2 linked regions of the Homo sapiens genome follow. The protein of the gene in region 2 purifies or fractionates together with the protein of the main gene of each other region. This does not show direct contact. Each region holds a gene or a part of one and is shown on either strand. Other genes may lie near its edges.

What was found.
Region 1: the proteins of NUFIP2 (region 2) and ATXN2L purify together in Homo sapiens (affinity purification with mass spectrometry; 5 studies listed by BioGRID and IntAct, with this or other methods). This does not show direct contact.

Annotation. Positions count from the first base shown.
Region 1 is NC_000016.10:28,825,884-28,829,632, reverse strand, and holds part of ATXN2L (ataxin-2-like protein), read right to left. Parts: intron 3,394-3,749; coding exon 3,243-3,393; intron 2,772-3,242; coding exon 2,647-2,771; intron 233-2,646; coding exon 141-232; intron 1-140. UniProt on the Homo sapiens protein: Involved in the regulation of stress granule and P-body formation.
Region 2 is NC_000017.11:29,259,429-29,263,177, forward strand, and holds part of NUFIP2 (FMR1-interacting protein NUFIP2), read right to left. Parts: 3' UTR 1-3,749. UniProt on the Homo sapiens protein: Binds RNA.

The DNA of each region.
Region 1 (3,749 bases), on a different chromosome or scaffold from region 2:
CAAGGCAGAGTAGGAGTAGGGATGGCGACCCTGGACACCCAGAGAAAAATGAGCAAAAACTATGTTCTACCTGGAAACCTGTCTTCACTTAGTGACCCCATATCACCAACACATCACCTGGAGAGCACCAAGATACTCACGTATAAGAAGAAAGACTGCTATCATAGGTAGTCTTCACACCGTAGTTCTCCTCATTGAACTTGAACATTTCATTGGGGTCCCATCCATTGGACTGGGGAGGGAGGAAGGTGGTTTTAAAACCCAGCAGGAAAAGCAACGACAAGTCACTTCCCTTCCATCAGGTTAAAAACTCCAAGATGTGAACAAATTGGCTGGGCACAGTGGCTGAAACCTGTAATCCCAGTACTTTGGGAAGCTGAGGCAGGAGGCTCTCCTGAGGCCAGGAGTTTAAGGCCAGACTGGGCAACACAGCAAGAGCTCATCTCTAGAAAAAAATAATGAAACAGCCGGGTGTGGTGGTGCATGCCTGGGGTCCTAGCTACTCGCTACTCAGGAGATTGAGGAGAGAGGATCACTTGAGCCCAGGAGTTTGAGGCTGCAGTGAATTATTATGGCACCACTGCGCTCTGGCCTGGGCGACTAGCTGGGCGTGGTGGCTCATGCCTGTAATCCCAGCACTTTGGGAGGTGGGTGGATCACCTGAGGTCAGGAGATCAACCTGACCAACATGGTGAAACCCCGTCTCTACTAAAAATAAAAAATTAGCCATCCGTGGTGGCGCATGCCTGCAGTCCTGGCTGAGGCAGAAGAATCGCTTGAACCTGGGAGGCAGAGGTTGCAGTGAGCTGAGATCGAGCCACTGCACTCCAGCCTCCAGCCTGAGTGACAGAGTGAGACCCTGTCTCCAAAAAAAACAAAAACAAAAACAAAAACAAACAACTACAACAAAAACCCGGGCAACAGAGCAAGCTCGTCTCAAAAATAAACGACAAAACAAGAGTGGAAAAAAAATTGGAACGTGGCTGGCAAAAGTAATCAACTAATAATTGTAATTAATAACTGCAATTTTTTTTTTTTTTTTGGAGACAAAGAGTTTCACTCTTGTTGCCCAGGCTGGAGTGCAATGGTGCGATCTTGGCTCACCGCAACCTCCGTCTCCTTGGGTTCAAGCGATTCTCCTGCCTCAACCTCACGAGTAGCTGGGATTACGGGCATGTGCCACCACGCCCAGCTAATTTTGTATTTTTAGTAGAGATGGGGCTTCTCCACGTTGGTCAGGCTAGTTCCAAACTCCCAACCTCAGGTGATCTGCCCGCCTTGGCCTCCCAAAGTGCTGGGATTACTGGTGTGAGCCACCGCGCCCGGCCTGCAACTGTTAATGATTACTAACAACTGCAGCAGAAATTATCAATAACTAGTAAACCTGAAAAGTCATAAGACCTAACAATTCTATTTCCAAGACATCCCAGAAAAATTCTGGCACATGTGCGTGGGGAATATATGTTCTAAAAGTCCAGCAAGGTACTATTTTTAGTAGCAAAATAATGGCAACCAAATGCAGATGATTAAGGAAAAGGACAAATACAATTTGCTGTGTACACGTGTGTGTGTATATTTGAAAACAGCACACAACAATAGAAGCAAAGAACTAGATCTACGTACAACCATGAGAAGTTCGAAAAGGCAAGAAAAGCAAATTCTTGTACAAACTAAACATAACAAAACAATAATATATTCATTCACAAGACATTTGTTTCTCAACAGATAGTCTCGCTATGATGCCCAGGCTGGAGCACAGTGGCCATTCACAAGTTGAGTCATAGTGCACCAAAGCTTCAAATGATTCTCCTACCTCAGCCTCCTGAGTAGCTGGGACTACAGGTGTGGGACCACCACGCTCAGCTCTATTCATGAGCGGTTTTTATTTATTTTTTTGAGACATCCTCACTGTCGCTCAGACTGGAGTCCAGTGGCACAATCTCAGCTTACAGCAGCCTCAAACTCCTGGGCTCAAGTGATCGGAGCTCCTGCCTTGGCCTCCCAAGTAGCTGGGACTACAGGCATGAGCCACTGCGCTCAGCCTCATGAGATTTTAAATGCCTCAGAGTAGCTGATTTTGGGAAGAGAAATGGGCCTACACATTAATCTATACTTTTTGTTATGTTGAAAAATAACGTGATGCAAATGCTAGGAGTGGTTAATTATAGATAGTAAGAGAGTAAGTTGATGTTTTGGTTTTGTTGCGTGTGACACGGTCCACCCAGGCTGGAGTGCAGTGGTATGATCACAGCTCACTGTAGCCTCGACCTCCCTGGGCTCAAGTGATCCTTCCACTTCAGCCTCCCAAGTAGCTGGGACTACAGGTACATGCCACCAAACCTTGATAGCTTTTATATATCTTGTTGAGACAGGGTTTCACCATGTTGCCCAGACTGGTCTCGAAATCCTTGCCTCAAGTGACCCACCGGCCTTGGCCTCCCAAAGTGCTGGGATTACAAACATGAGCCACTGCACCCAGCTAAGAATAGATATTTTTACTTTGCTATTTTCTATACCTTTCTATTTGTTATCTGACTACCATCAATGGGCAACAGTAAATATTTCCCTCCCCACTCAAATGAACCTCACTGTCAACAACCCATTCTGTCTGTCCAGCTCCCAAGTTCTCAGGGAAGGAGGCTATACCATGTCAGACTCGAGGTCATAGTCGTCGCTGTTGCTGTCACCCCCCTCCCAGCGCTGAAGCACCTTCTCTTTGTGTTCCCCATTCACTTTCGAGTTCATGGCAATGGCTGAATCGGTGAACTTGTCTGTGGGGGCAGAGGTGAAGATCAGGAGTCAGGCTATATTTCACAGACTTCTTTCCAATATCCCCCAACCCCACTCTCCGTAAGTAGTTCAGGAACAAAGTTTAAGAAGTCCAGAGTACGTGTGCCCGTGTGTTAGGATGGCCAGGGGGTGGGGAGGCAAGAGAAGAAGAGTATAAAAAGTCTATCAGTACTATGATTCCAAAGAAAAAAGAAGTTAAAAACCAAGCAAAGAAAATATGAAGAACCACAACACAGACAGGAATTCATCGCATTATATATTAGACATCAAGACATATTTTTAAGAAGAAAAATCCACCCACTTCGCTCAGGAAAAAAAAGGCATTAAAGCAAAACAAACAAACAAAAACAAAAAAACAAACCAAACACATCACCATGTTCCACCTGCACACAAACTACCCTCTGTCCTCTATGCACACAGAGCAGGTCTGAGGTAACAGCCTAGGACAATACCTTTAGTAGCATAGTTGAAGTCAACATTTCGGAAGTGAACAAGCATGACATCACTTGGCTTAAACACCATGGTGTCCACAATGTCCTCCCGACGAGGGCCACCTGCTGGCTCAGATGCTTTCCGGTGCACAGCATCCACGGCTAGTTCAAACTACAAACACCCCATTCCCCACACCCATGGGTCAGTTTCAAGAAAAGTGAAGGCAAAAATAGAACTGGATTTCTCTTAAATAGAACTGGATTTCTCTTACCCTTCCCAAACTTTTCACAACACTACATCCTCAACATGCTTGGAACCAAGTGCATTGTTTTCTCAACATCAGCCACAGGACTTAGCAAAAGTCTCACAAAAATTTAAACTTAAATATTTTAACATTAAAGTACCCAGCCCTCAAATTTGTCTTTTTTCCCTGCAGCACTATTCAGCACAGGCCTACAGAAACAACTAAAGGCATACTCTGACATCACCCAATTGACACCTTCAATGAGCCTATTTCATTCTCCTCC
Region 2 (3,749 bases):
AATTAGCCAGGTGTGGTGGTGTGCGCCCGTAATCCCAGCTACATGGGAGGCTGAGGCAGGGGAATTGCTTGAACCAGGGAGGTGGAGGTTGCAGTGAGCCAAGATTGCGCCACTGTACTCCAGCCTGGGCAACAGACAGTCCGTCTCAAAAAAAAAAAGGTGGGGGGGGGGGGGATACTGCAGTATTATAAAATGGCTTTAGAACTCTGCACATAACAAAATTGTATGGAAAATAGGGAAGTCTGAATCAGCAATCCCATCACATATGAGGACGGCCATTCCATAGTTTCTAGCCCATAACTGATTTACCATTCCCAATAATGCAAGAGCAACATACCAATCATGCTGCAATGGGTGTTTTTATTATGCAGACAACCGAAAATTCTATTCGCACTATTGCTGGCATCCTTTAACTACTTTAAGACCTTTCTTGAGCGGCAAAACAGTGTGAAATTTAAAACTCAGTAAAGCAATGCTTTTGAGTGGAGCCAATGATTCATCACTCTCCCAGGTGGTCCTGGTTCTCACACAGGTGATGTATATTTTAAAAGAAACATTTTAAGATACCAAAACAGAAGCCCACCCTTTTCACCATGAAAGAATCTTGGTGCTCTGTTGATTAATTACATTAGTAAAAATAACATCGATATTAAGAACTAATGTTAAGCTATGTGCCTCTGGCAAACCTAAAGCAGCTATTTATGCTTCTAGTCTTTTCCTCTGCCTCTCCCTTTTAAACAAATTATCAAAATTTTGTGGCGGGTAAGGGGACAAGAGCAAATCCTACGTTTTCCTTTCAAATCCAACAGTTAAGTCATGGGTAGGGTTATTAAGATACTGCCCTATCAGACTCTACCTTGACTGGTGTGGCATCAACCAATCTGACCATAATGACCATTATATTTGTCCCATAACATAACTGTTCTGCACAGTTAACATATTTATACAAGAGGGATCAGCTGTTGTTGAGGATGTGGCCCAGCGGCATAACTATACTAATAATACCTGGAAATTGGACTTTTAATCTATTTCTCTGAAGAGAGCCTTGTAGGAATGACTCCGTCCTTATTTACAGTGGAATTAAAATTGAGTAAAGTCCATTTCCAATAGCCATTTGATACATGACAATTTCACACTAAATGGCTTATTTAAAAAAGTTCACAGCAATTACAAAAGATAAATCATTAGATGCCTCTGATGTGGGGAAGCAACAAGCCTAACAACCAAGTATGATATTATCACTATGTAATGTTTTTTCAAAATTTTGTATTGTGGACAACTCCCATAGTTGAGGTTTGTCATATTTTCCCTACAAACTGTTATTTGTAAAAACAATGCAGCACTTTTCCTTTATGAAGTTTCTGCAGATTGAGTAATGACTAGGTAAGCAGATGATTAAGGAGGACAACAAAATTCTAAAATGGAGAAACTCTGGCCATTTATTTCAAAGAAAAAAAAATCTGTCATTAAATTCCTAGTTATTGGCTATCCCCTCCTAGAAAGTAGAGGAGGAAGGGCTGGCTACCACAGACGCTGTAAATACACTTTATGTGAAGGTTCATTACTAAGGAGGTTAGAAGAAAGGCTATGTAATTAACTTCAGTTCAGCAAAGTGGGGGTGAATAAAGAGAAAGATAATACACCCTGTGTATTTTGTGGGAAAAGGGGATTATTGAGGACACCTACAAGAGTGGTATGTGACACAGAAGCCTACAATAATCAAAACAGATTTAAAAAGAAATCTTCACCCATAATTAGTATCTTCATAGCTATTAAAAAAATAGGTCATAATTTCATTCTTAGTGCCATTTTTCAATACTACCCTTTTAAGGATTTAAACCACCTGACTTTTTTCTGTGTAATGAAAACAAATGGCACAAAATAAATACAAGTTCATTCTCTGAATACTAATGTCTTATACACATTCATTTACTAATTTTTAATATCTCCATCTTTTCCTCACACACACATACATACATACATAAACACACACACACACACACACCCCTTTTTCAGTCTTTATAATGGAGGGATGTTAAAAATCCCCTCTAGACTGTATTTGGTTTATGCTACAGTACTAATACTCTGAGTTGAAGGAAAATTCTTTATACCAAACAATAACACGTTATTTAAATGTGCTAAATTAATCACAGCTGAAGTTTGTTTAGAAGCTTACACAAAATAATCAGAAAACAGATCAACTCTTAAGATTTTTTTTTAATAAGTGCTCTGTAAGGAATTGTGTGAGGACCTAAGGAGAAAGATTGCAACAAATAGAGTTAAGTGTTACCAAACAGCACAAAGAGATTTGTCCCAAAGTCCTGCTTGTACCTAGGCAATTAAGTCTATTAACCTAATGCCCCCAAAATACTGACAGTTAATATGATGGGGCACTAGGGTTCTCAGAAAGTTAACAGACATTCCTAACTACATACCTCTAACCATATAATCAAGGAAATTTCAGTGGAGAAATCAAAGTGAAATGTTGCATTGTTTCATTTAGAAGTGAGACTCTCAAAAACCTTTGGACAGACAGAGAAGTGATACATTCTTTTTGGCTTCTCTGAACACTGAGGCCTGAGGGATATGGAAGGAAATTAGAAAAGCAATAGCTTTCTAAAGATGTTTAATCAAGTGTTGCTTCTAAGTTAAAAAGCCCAATTCAGGTGGGGTCTGGGTTTGTTTTTTGTTTTTTCCTTTTCAAATATATACTCAATTCAACCTCTGTATGTCACAAACCCAGAAAGTTTCTTGTGAGTTGTGAGACGGAAGAACTTTAAAATTCCAGGCAAGCAAAATGGACATTTAAAAAAGGGGACTAGAGAGGGGAATCTGGCCCTAAGGCGACAAGTGGTTACACAAGGCAATTGAACACACAGCAGAACTTTAAAACCTGTAAAACAAACTGGAGCCTTTTTTCCCTTTAATCAACCTTATATGTCTTTTTTTTTAACTTTTTGAAAATTTTTATTTAAAAAAACACAAAAACACAGACTTTTTTCACTTCAGTTATGTGGTATGTTGCATTTTCCAGTTTGTTCAATGCTTTAAAGCTCAAGGATGCCTCTGCTTTCAATTGTACATGGGCCTGAAGCATCCTAGCTTTTGGCAAGCAGGCAGGAGACTCAACAAAAATCAAAATAGGAACAAGGCAGACTAAATGCAGGGCACATCTGTAAACATATTATACATTTGAAAATTACAATATCAGTCAAAGTGATACAGTTTACAGGTGAAATGAAACTATCTGGAACTGGCCTACCACAAGTTTCTGAACCTGGACTGATACAATAAGTTATTTTATATATATATATATATATTATGTATAAAAAAAAGTTTTGTTTACATCAAGTGGAATTGGCAATCCATGCTTATACTTTTAAAATCTAAGCAGGGCAGAAATCCAGACTAAAAAGATAGTTACTCTACTCTATGTTGAGTCCAACAGCTTCTTTCATGAACTACTTGTTTTAAAAGCCTCAAATAATCAACAAAACAAGAAAACCCATCCATACTACAGTCACTCAAAACTGGACATTTCTAGGGGTAGAGCCAAAGTAGTTACTTTCTCCCCAAATACCCCAGGGGATCCAGTCTACTTTTATCAGAAGACTACAACTCTTTATATAAATGCCCTGATATTTTAACCTGTATTTGACATACATGGATATACTAATTTCTGTGTGTGTGATGTGATGCTGTGTCAGGCCAGACAACTTGTTATTATGTTACTAACATCACCCAATCTC